2 separate regions of the Homo sapiens genome follow, and region 2 is linked to region 1. Evidence: fine-mapped QTL for protein levels in blood plasma. Region 1 holds a variant in brackets. A gene starts in the other region. All regions are shown on their reverse strands. Region 1 has its middle 23 kb from the start of FCGR3A. Region 2 holds the start of PDGFRA (platelet derived growth factor receptor alpha).

What was found. PIP is the posterior inclusion probability: the model's chance that the variant is causal. The UK Biobank Pharma Proteomics Project read protein levels with antibody pairs (Olink). The fine-mapping took linkage between variants from a reference panel, not from the people measured, so its PIPs are less certain.
Region 2: it holds the start of PDGFRA, and the variant in region 1 is fine-mapped to the plasma level of the PDGFRA protein (UK Biobank, PIP above 0.99).

Annotation. Positions count from the first base shown.
Region 1 is chr1:161,570,294-161,575,667 of GRCh38, reverse strand. No RefSeq gene overlaps it. Among named protein-coding and RNA genes, the nearest start is that of FCGR3A, 23 kb to the right of the region's middle. The variant T/C (reference allele first, on the strand shown) is at 3,223.
Region 2 is chr4:54,224,128-54,229,499 of GRCh38, reverse strand. It overlaps PDGFRA (platelet derived growth factor receptor alpha), which reads right to left and starts at 207. Exons shown (of 23, transcript NM_006206.6): 1 at 85-207. RefSeq lists enhancers at 909-1,734, 2,563-3,388, 3,389-4,216 and a silencer at 2,857-3,044.

The sequences.
Region 1 (5,374 bases):
TAGGTAACCCCTGGGCAGGCTCATCTCTGGGGCAACACACAGAAGGGTGAGGACAAAGAGATAGCTTACTGTAAGTGCCACCCTAAAAAGGTGCTAGCCAGGAAGGAAGATGTAAGCCATCCCCTGGAGAGAAAGCAGAAGGGTCGAGAACCGGAAATGTCCATTAATCAGGTATCCAAAGAAGAAGGACTGATGTGTGAGGAGTCAGAAGCAGAAGGGAGGGTGCCGGGTCCAGGGCCAGTTTGAAACAAATCGTGTCAGCCAGGCATGGTGGCTCACGCCTGTAATCCCAACACTTTGGGAGGCTGAGGCAGCCAGATCACTTGAAGTCAGGAGTTCGAGACCAGTCTGACCAGCATAGTAAAACCCCATCTCTACTAAAAATGTAAAAATTAGCCAGCTGTGGTGTCACACACCTGTAATCGCAGCTACTTGGGAGGCTGAGGCAGGAGAATTGCTTGAACCCAGGAGGTGGAGGTTGCAGTGAGCCAAGATCATGCCACTGCACTCCAGCCTGGGCAGCAAAGCAAGACTCTGTCAAAAAAGAAAAAAGAAAAAAGAAAAAAGAAACAAATCTTGCCACCATCAAGTTCCCATCATCCATTTCTCTTTGTGCATTTATTGGCAGATTGATAAGGCAGGACAGATCCTAAAAGTGATTGGAATGTAAATAAAGGAGATCTCTGCCTCTACTAAATAAATACACAATAAAAATTAAAAGGAGATCTCCTCTGACCAAGGTATTTCAGTAAAGTTGCAAATATGAAGGTAAGTATTGCTGCTGGTTGAGTAGTCTTATGGAAAAGCCCTTCAATCGGGTCGCGGTTTATCGTTCTAGAAACTGGGAAAAGTATTTTGTACGAGAGGACAGTGGAGGTTCCTGCTCAGCATCTGTTCTTTCCTGTGGCCTCCAGTCTCAGTAGAGACCCTAGGAGAAGAGTTTACTGTGACTGGAGCAGAAGAGCAGGCTGCAGTTAACTTGGTCCCTGGCAGAATTACAGAAGTAAAATGAGGTCTTCAGGAATCACTGGAGGGAAATGATACTGAGAGTGGCAATAGCAACAAATTCTGAGCAGGAAAGCAATAACTCATGGGGATCAACTAGTGACTGATTTACTCAACCCATATGCAGTGCTCTAACCCAATGTTGACTCTGCTAGGTAAGAAAGATGGGGTGGGGATGGATGGGAGGAAGAAATGAAGAAATGAGAAGAACAGTGGTCTCTGTCCTGAGGAACCCTCATTACAATGGGAAAGATAGGATATTTGCAGGAGACAGATATAAAAACAATACAAACCTATCCTGTGCTTCACCTGAATTAGAGCAGAAAGTCGTAGAATTAAAAATTGAGGCTGGGCACGATGCCTGATGCCTGTAATCCCAGCACTTTGGGAGGCCGAGGCAGGTGGATCACCTCAGCTCAGGAGTTTGAGACCAGCCTGGCAAACATGGTGAAACCCCATCTCTACTAAAAATACAAAAAATTAGCCAGGGGTTGTGGCACGTGCCTGTAATCCCAACTATTTGGAAGGCTGAGACAGGAGAATTGCTTGAACCCGGGAGGTGGAGGTTGTAGTGAGCCGAGATCACGCCATTGCACTCCTGCCTGGGTGACAGAGTAAGCGACTCAGTCTCAAAATAAATAAATAAATAAATAAATAAAAATTGAGGAAAAGTGTGAGTGTTAGAAGAAACAATTGATTATAGAGCCAAAATATCTAATCAGAAAGATTGTGATTTCAGACATATCTGCATAATCTCTCTTCTTTACCTCCTCCCCCTGTAGCCCACTATCACCCTGCATTGACAGCCAAGAGCTGAGAGCCCCCGGAGCTGATCAGATTTCACTAGCAATCACAGCACACAACTTGGATGAGTGGCAATATGCTTTCCTCTAGAATGTGAAGGTGGAAGGCCCAAGAATCGAGCTTGGAGTGATAGTCCTGGCAGTAGGTCTCCCCTACTTGGCCTCCCATAGGCTTTTCCAACCACCCAGCATGATCGGTCCCTGTCCCCTGTCCAACAGCTGAGAATATGGTCAGAAAAGAGCCCTCCAATTTGAAGGGTAGTTCTGAATATTAAGGTACTTCTGAATAGTAAGAAGTAATAACATAAATATATGAAGAATATAGTAGCTCAGAGAAACAGGCTTGCACCATGAAGGGTTAGGACAGTCATAAAATGGAAATCATGTTTATATGAGAAACAACATAGCCTCAAGGGAAACAAAAGCCAGTATCAGGCTTTGGTGAAAACTTAGAACAAGGAGAGATTGTAAACTAACCAGACGTGTGAAGAGCAAATAGCAGAGCCTACCTACATAGCACAACTCCTGCCTGCATGGCCATCAGGACACAGTCAGTGCCGACCTCAAGGACACTTTTGATGATAACTTTTAAAACATACCATTTTACTTTCTGCTTTTTAGATTATCAAGTCATGTGAGAAACAGATAACTTCATCTAATTTCTGTGCTTAAATTCATTATGCCCTGCCATTCTGGTGATTTTTCATTTTGGACTTGGCCATTTTGATTTGTGGTATAAAAACAGCTGTGAAAACCAGCCTCATTAAAATGTTTTCATTAGAAACACCCCCCCAAAAAAACCTGTATTAATTAGAAACACCTGAAAAAAAACAGATAATACACAAAGTGATAACTTTTCTTGAACCCGTCAGAGTGCTGAGGTAGTGAGGCAACCAAGTACCCTGAAATCTAAGAAAAGACAGGTGTTTCTAAAGAGGGCTAGGATATGAGCACAGGCTCACCTGTAAGACAGCGTGGAAGGAAGGCAGGGCTACCATTCAAATGGGTTAGAAGAATTCAGCTAAAATTTTTAATAAATCGCTGAAAGCCAGATGTGGCCAAGAACTGAGAGCTCATGATACAAGGGCCATTCCTACGCATTTGAAGCATCTTCATGGGCCTCCACCAGAGCTCATGAAAAGCTTGTGGCCAGGGAATACATACCTAGGTAATGGAGCAGCCATCATTCTGGGAAAGGCATGAAGCCCACCTGAATCCTTTTTTCTAAGGAACAAATGTCTTAAATCACTAGAATAAGGGCCCAGGGCACAGAGCAGAGGAAAAGAGCCCATTACACCTGGAGGAAAGGAACAGGAAAAAACAACAACAACAACAACAACAAAAAACAACTCTCTACCCTTGGGGAAGGGGCTGGAAACCATCCCAAGCCTAGATGATTACAGGTCTTCTACCA[T/C]TGAGTGAGATCTAGGATCACTGAAAAAGCCCTATCCTCAAGATCCAGGGACAGAAGGCCCGACTAAAACTGAGGCGGGACTAGAACAGCTGTCACAGCCCCACACGTTCTTCTTAGCCACTGCCCTGAAAAAATCAACAAGAACAGCGGCTATTGCAGCAAAGAAAGAGTTTAATAATCACAGGGCCAGCCATGTGAAGAGAGCAAGCAGCAATTTCTCAAACACATCTCCCTGACAATTCAGAGACTAGGGTTTTTCATGGGTACTTTGGTGGGCAGGAGGCTTGGAAACTGGAACAATCGATTGGCTGGGGATGAAATTACAGGGGTGTCTAAAGCTGTCTTCACGCAGCCAAGTCAGTTCCCAGGAGTGGGTGGATCTCAGGACCTAGTGGCGTCTCTTGGTCTACTGAAATGTTGAATCTGAAAAATACCTCGAAGACTCGTTCTTCAGGGTTCACAATAGTGATGTTATCTATAGGAGTAGTTGGGGAAGTTATAAATTTTGCAATCCCCGGTTACGTGACTCTGGTGCAGTAAGCAACATGCTACTGTAAGGACACATGGAAAGCAAGGAAGTGAGGAAGACACACTAAGCAATGGCAGGTCATTGTTTAACTGAGTCTATTCTTCAGCAAAGTTAAAGTCCCTACCGTATTTTAACCTTGTCTTATGAATGCAGTTTCAATCTTGAACAAGGAGGGAGTTCAGTTTCCCTTGACTCAAAGTTTAACTATAAACGTCACTCATAGCTATTTTGACCTCCATGCTAGAATAAGAAAAAAAAAACTCGCCTGTGGGTTAGAAGCAGGATGGAGTCAGTCATGTTAGATTTCTCTCTTTATTCGTTTATTTTTTATTTTTATTTATTTATTTATTTATTTATTGAGATGGAGTCTTGCTCTGTCACCCAGGCTGGAGTGCAGTGGTGGGATCTTGGCTCACTGCAAACTCTGCCTCCCTGGTTCAAGCAATTCTCCACCTGCCTCAGCCTCCCAAGTAACTGGGATTACAGGCGCCTGCCGCCACTCCCAGCTAATTTTGTAGTTTTAGTAGAGACTGGATTTCACCATCTTGGCCAGGCTGGTCTCGAACTTCTGACCTCAGGTGATCCACCTGCCTCAGCTTCCCAAAGTGCTGGGATTACAAACATGAGCCACCACGCCCAGCCAGATTTCTCTCCTTATTTATATATATATATTCTGCAAAGGCAATTTCACAATGGATAAATCTCTGCCCTACCTCCCAGGCTAGCAAGTACTGAATAAGAAGCAAAAGTACTCTGCCACTGAAGAGAGAATCTCTGAGGTGCAGGCACATACTTTAGAAAGTCCTAAAGTTGGGGTAGTGCAGGAAAATTGAGAAAATACCATCCAGGAGTACCGGCGGCTCTTGGTCTACTGAAATGCTGCCTCCACCCAAGCACAAGATAACACTAGAAGAATTTGAAGGTAACTATGGCAATAATAAAACCCGAACCCAGCTCAACTCTTGACTAGATTGGCCCACACTAAGAGCTTACCAGAATAAGACGGGTTCTCATTTCTAATCATAAATGCAATTTACCTCAGTTCCTACTGTCCCACATATAATGTCCAGAATTCAATAAAAACAATGAGCCAACACAGAAAAGCAAGGTTTAAAAATCCTGTCAACAGACAATGCAAGCAATAGAAACTGCTAAAAGATGATTCAGATGTTGGTACTATCAAATAGGGAATTTTAAAATCAAACCATTAATTACAACCATATTTAACATGTTAAAGGCTCTAGTGGAAAAGGTAGACAACATACATAAACAGATGGGGAATTTCAGCAGAAAGATAGAAACTATACGAAGAGTCAAATGGAAATATTAGCAAATTTTGAAACAGAGTAAAAGAGAAGAAGAATGTATTAGGCAGGGTCATCAGTAGATGCCATACAGCTGAGAAAAAAAAAATCAGTACTTTGAAAATGGGTTCATAGAAATTACCCAAACTGAAATTCAAGGAATAAAAAAAAAGAAAATAGAACAGAACACCCAAGAACTGTGGGACAATGTAAACTGGCCTAACATATATGTAATTGAAATCCCAGAGAATAGAGAAAGAATGGGAGAGAGGAAACATTTAAAGAGAAAATGGCCAACAATTTTTCAAAAATAATGGAA
Region 2 (5,372 bases), not on the chromosome of region 1:
TGAAGTTACTTCGCTTTCTCCAGTCCCAGAGTCTGATCAGGGACTTCCCTTATAAACAAAAAATCATTTTTTCTTTTCCCTTACCTTCTCCTCCGATGTTATTCCGCAATGAATGTCCCACACATGGAGTAAAGAGCGTGCCCACGGCCTCCAATGATCTCTTGCAGTCTCCTCCTCTGTTTCTCTCCCTGTAGCTCCAACAGTAATGGGCTCAAAAACCGCGTTTTGTAATTGATTCAATGTTATAGTCCATCCTTCTAAAACTAATCATTTGCTCTAAGTAAATAGCTGTCAGGAAATAAGCCCCCCCTCAACCTTGGTCTCTTCAAAATAAAAGTTTCTCTCAAACTCCCTGCGCTCCGAATCTCCCAGTGTCCAGATTGCGCCTTCGCTTTTTGCTCTTACGCAATCAGGGGGTCCAGTCCCAACCCCCAGACTTCGACAACAACTGGGGGGCGGGGAGAAGCAGACCAGATGGGATGGGGGGTGGTGGAAGGGGGAGGTGTTGGTGCTCTGCCGGGAAAGAGGTTTTGTGAAACTACAAACAGCCCATCATTTCCAGAATGAGTTTGCCTCCCCATTTTGGGGTTATTTTCTTAGACTGCTATAGTTTTGTATTCTCTTTGAAAAGAAGAAAAGGAACATACAAAATTGCATTTAATACCCAGAGAGAATATAAATCTAGAATCAAGAAATGTCCCTTCTACAAACTCGGCCCAACGAGAAATAGGGCCCTCGGGAGAAATCTCCAAGCGGTTGCGCCGTTTTGAACTAGGGGTCTTTTAGGGGAAGGGCTATATAGTTGCTAGTTATTTAATAGGATTGGGCAAACTGTTGAGTCCAATATGACAATGATGGGTTTTTGTTTTGTGTGGTGTGTGTGTGTGTACAAGACTGGGTGGTCTGAAATACGGTACAAAGAAAAGAGGGTCTGTGTAGGTTTGGAACGTTCTCCGATAGAACGACCTTTACTCCCTTGAAGTCACTTATCTGGTCGTGCCTTTGTTTTCGGGGTTATCTGGGCGAGGTTGCCCTGGCTTCTATCTCGCATACAAAAAAAGCTCAAGCTTGGGCGTTTGAGGAATCGTACCACCGCCTCCGCGTCGTGGGGGAGGATGCCTTTTGATTCTCCCTCCGTTCCCTCCCGCCGCGTGGGTCGAACCCTACGAATTCCTTGGAATTGACAGCTGAGCCCCAAACCCTGCGCCCAAGGCGAGAGGCCAGTGTCGGGAGGAAACGATCCTGCCGGCGAGGGAAAGGGGGCGCTGATGCTCCAGGAACCAGACCTGGGCAGAGTGGGGCTTCCCAGCGACAGCGGGGGAGGGGAGCGCGTTCACCTTCATCGCTCTCTGATTTTTGAATTCTCCTGTTGGGGTTGGGGGTCATCCTTCATCCTTCTCCCTCAACCCCACCCCAACACACGCACTCTGAAAATGGCCAAAGTGGCCAGGTTGGGACTGGCATGTCCAACAGCCGTCTCCTCCTTCACCAGGAGGGTGGACACAGTGCAGTGGACAGGGGAGAGTCACAGAGAAGTACTCCAACGGGCGCGGTGCTGTGCCTAACCAGGACAGGATCTTGGGATGTCAGCCTCGAAAACAGGGCGCCTGGGGCTGCGCTGGGGGTCCCATTGCCGCAGTTCTTCTACGCGACCCGCTCTCGTGCATCTTCAGCTTGGGTGACTGCACCGCTCGCTATTACTTCCACATGTCCCTTCAGGAAATCATTGAAGGCAAATATATGAACAGCCCCTTGTTCGGAATGCTAACAGGATACCGTAATGTTTGTAGAAAATGAGCGGGAACAAACGATCCCCCCAAAAATCAGAGTGCGGAATAAAAGGCAAAAGCGGGTGCTGGGCCACATGCTGTTAAGTTGAGAACCGGGTTTTTAGGCTAGTTGCCCCAGAGGGTAGGAGGCGAGACAGACAGCCTACCCAGAGGGGCTGCTTTGCTTCGGCGACACTGTTAGTCCGGTCAAGCCAGGGTCTTCCGTCCGCAGGGCCCCAGCGCTCTCCGCCCACAAATGGTAACTTCACAGTTCATTTCAGAGCCGTTTAATGGGGCCCGAGAAGCAGTCCGGGCGGGAGTGTCTCCAGGCAGCGACTCCTCGGGAGTTTAAAGCAGAAAGCAATGGATGAGCAAGCGAGCACCCAGTTGTCCTTCTGGTAGTAATTACCTGCCTAATTTGAATGATGCCTTTGTTATGATCATTAACAAACATTTGCTAAAGGTTTCCATGTGTGACATTCTGGAAGGTTTAAAGGCCTGAGGAGCTGACTCCAGGGATAGTGCCCCGGTGGGGGGTGGCGCAAGAAAGCAAATGGTTGGGGGAAAATTTTGCGGAGAGACTGTGCAAAGAAGAGAGGTCAACATCTGCCTCCTCTGCAAAAGCAAAATAAACCCAGTGGTCAGGAGCAACCTCCGGACAGGAGGCCCTCGAACCGAGGCGGTTGGTTCCTTAAACCGAGTCCTGCCCCCACAGCCCCCGCCCCTACCACTGCTCATAGGCGGGTTTGAATCCTGTTTTCCGCCTTCTAAGGCTGGTCCGAGGCTGGTTCGGGAGAAGTCGGGTCTGCGCCCGGCAGTCAGTCCGGGGCGTCGGGGGAAGGTGGGGCTAGTTCTTGCCGCGCTCTCCCAGTGTCGTTCTAAGATCCTTCGAGATCGGTCCCACGACGCCCCGGGTCCTGGGTGGTCCCGGAGCCGCAGGGGGCTAGAAACCTTGCCCTCCTGAGGCGGGCTGCGGGTCTTTTCTCCCCTTCTTGTGCTTCTCACTGGGCACCGTGTGGGGGGTGGGGGGAGGGGACCAGGCCACCATATGTACCCGGAGGAGAGGAGCGACATGCACTGGCCTGGGCAGCTCTGCGCAGATCTCAACCCGCGCCCGGATTCTAATTTTCAACCTCTTGGGGTTTTTTGTTTTGTTTTTTCCTTGAGGGATTATCAAGGGGTTAAGAATGTGGGTTTTCTCCCCAAAGTGGGAGTCGGGGAGGCTGCGAGCCGAGAGGAAGGAGGCCCAACTCCCGAATTGAGCCGGGCCGAGAAGTTGGGAGAAAAGGGTAGGGACTGTGACAGTTCTGTCCTCCGCCTTGCGCGTCTAGGCCAGCAGGCGACATGAAATTGAGGGCAAGGGTATAAAAAGGTGCAGTCGATTAGCTGACTTTCAAAAAGAAGGCCTCGTAAACTTTTTACAACCAGATCAAAATGGTCACTAAAAACAAAAGCAAAATCTCGCCGTGCCCTGCCCTGCCTCCAGGGCCCGTTCTCCTGGCCCCGACTCCCGGGCGAGGGCGGCCACAGCTCCGAGCGCCACACCTTTGGCTTTGAGGGCGCTTCCCACTGAGTTGGCTTTTTGTGTCTTCTCCTCCTCTGCCCCCCAGCTCCACCGCCAATTCTACTTTCCTTGAAGAATTCAGGTCCGTTTGCCCTAGAAGCCGTACGAATTTAACAGTTATCAAAGCCGTTAGTTGTGAAAATCACGTTTAAACTTGTGAATTCTTTTTTTCAAATGGTGATGGGCGGGGCAAGGGAACGGGGGATGTTTCTGGCTTCACAATTTGAAAATGAAGGGCCCGTTTGGTGGTTTGCAAAAGAAAACGGTGCTAACTGCTCCTTCTCCCACCCCCTTTAACCCTTGGCTGCATCTGGAATAGCCGCCTCCCTGGGTCCAGCGAGGAAGGGTCCTTTGCCCGGAGGTGGTGGAGGTGACGCACAGATGTGGGGGGTCCCCGCAGACAGAGAGACGCCCTGGCCTCTGGTCTGCCCCAGCTGAGGCTCGGAAGCTAGCTCTAAGGAGTCTCTTTGCACGCTCAGAATTCAGAACGGCACTAGTCCTGGAAAAGGAGGAATTCTCTAAAAAGATCGAGATGGGTCTGTGCAGCTTGAGGTGAAAGTTCCCTCCCCAGGACTCCGCACCCACCTTGCTGGCTGGATCTCAAGGTGCAGCCTCTCTTCTGGGTTTGGGGGGCTTGCTCTTCAGGAAGTAGAAGCAGAGGGTTCCTAACAACGCAGCCTGTTTACAGACCTGAGGACAAGAGCTTGTTTCCTGGTCCAGCCCAGCCCGGTGGGCCATACACTCCTTAGAGCCTGGGACAGACTGGTAGGACTGGAACCCTCTGGATCTGGCTTTTGGATACCCCCTCCCTCGCTAGAGAGCCCCCTTCCTCAGTTTAGGGATGTTGTTGTGCCTCTGCCCTCTCCTGCTCCTTAGGTCTTTGGTTTTAGTTGCTTTTAATTTGAAAAACCATATGAGGGGAGGGGGAAGGAACGAGGAGATTGGGAGGTCTGCTCTTTATTAGGGGCCCAGGCCTCTAGCTTTCCAACACACAGCTGTGGCTGGGAGGGGAAGGAGGGCTGGCTCTGTGTAGGTCAGCCTCACTGAAGAGAGGGACTTGTCCTCTGGAAGTCCCAGGAGTCCAGCACAGCCCTGTGATTTTTTTTTTTTTAATCCTTCAGCAGAGACACTGCAGTGGAAAACCAGTGGAACCTCGACTCTTTGCTCATCCATTAAAAGGGGCATAATCGACTAGGCATGGTGGCTGATGCCTGTAATCCTAACACTTTAGGAGGCCAAGGTGGGAGGAACACCTGAGCCCAGGAGTTTAAGACCAGCCTGGGCAACATAGTGAGCCCCCATCTCTATTTAAAATAACAGTAATGACCATTGGAATAATCATGCACAACGTATAGGGTTGTCTTGGGGATTAAGTAAGATAATATCCCAGGTAAATAAAGCGGTTCATATGCAAACTTAAGATGTACAAGGCCATGTGTCAAGGGCTAAGGATACAGCCCTTTCCTCCTAGATTTTATGGACTAGTGGAGCAATCAATTAGACATAAAGTTGCAACTTAGCGTTCTAAGCAATGTTGGAGAGAGACAATGAAGTCAGCACACAGGAGGAGCCTAACCCAATCTGGGAGATGGGAGACGGCTTCTTTCAGGGAAGGCTTCTCTGAGAATCTAAGAGGAATAAGAATCTAGTTGGGGAGGAACCTCATTGCATGGGCGGGGAGGTGAGAGAGAACATGAGATAATCAGAAGTGAAAGGAGTTTGGAATGGCCACAACTTGTAAAGGTCCGGAGCGGAAGGAGCAAAAAAGAGGTGAGATGGAGCTCATGGAGGCCTTCTAGACCATGTTAAATGTCTAGGCTTGCAGAGATGGGAGGATCGATGGAAGGTTCCAGGCCAGAAGTTCAAAACCAGAATGGACAACATAGTGAGACTCCATCTCTACAAAAAATTTAAAAATTGACCAGATGTGGTGGTGCACACCTGTATTCCCAGCTACTCAGGAGGCTGAAGCAGGAGGAATGCATGAGCCCAAGAGTTCGAGGCTGAGGTAAGCTATGATCGCACCACTGCGCTCCAGC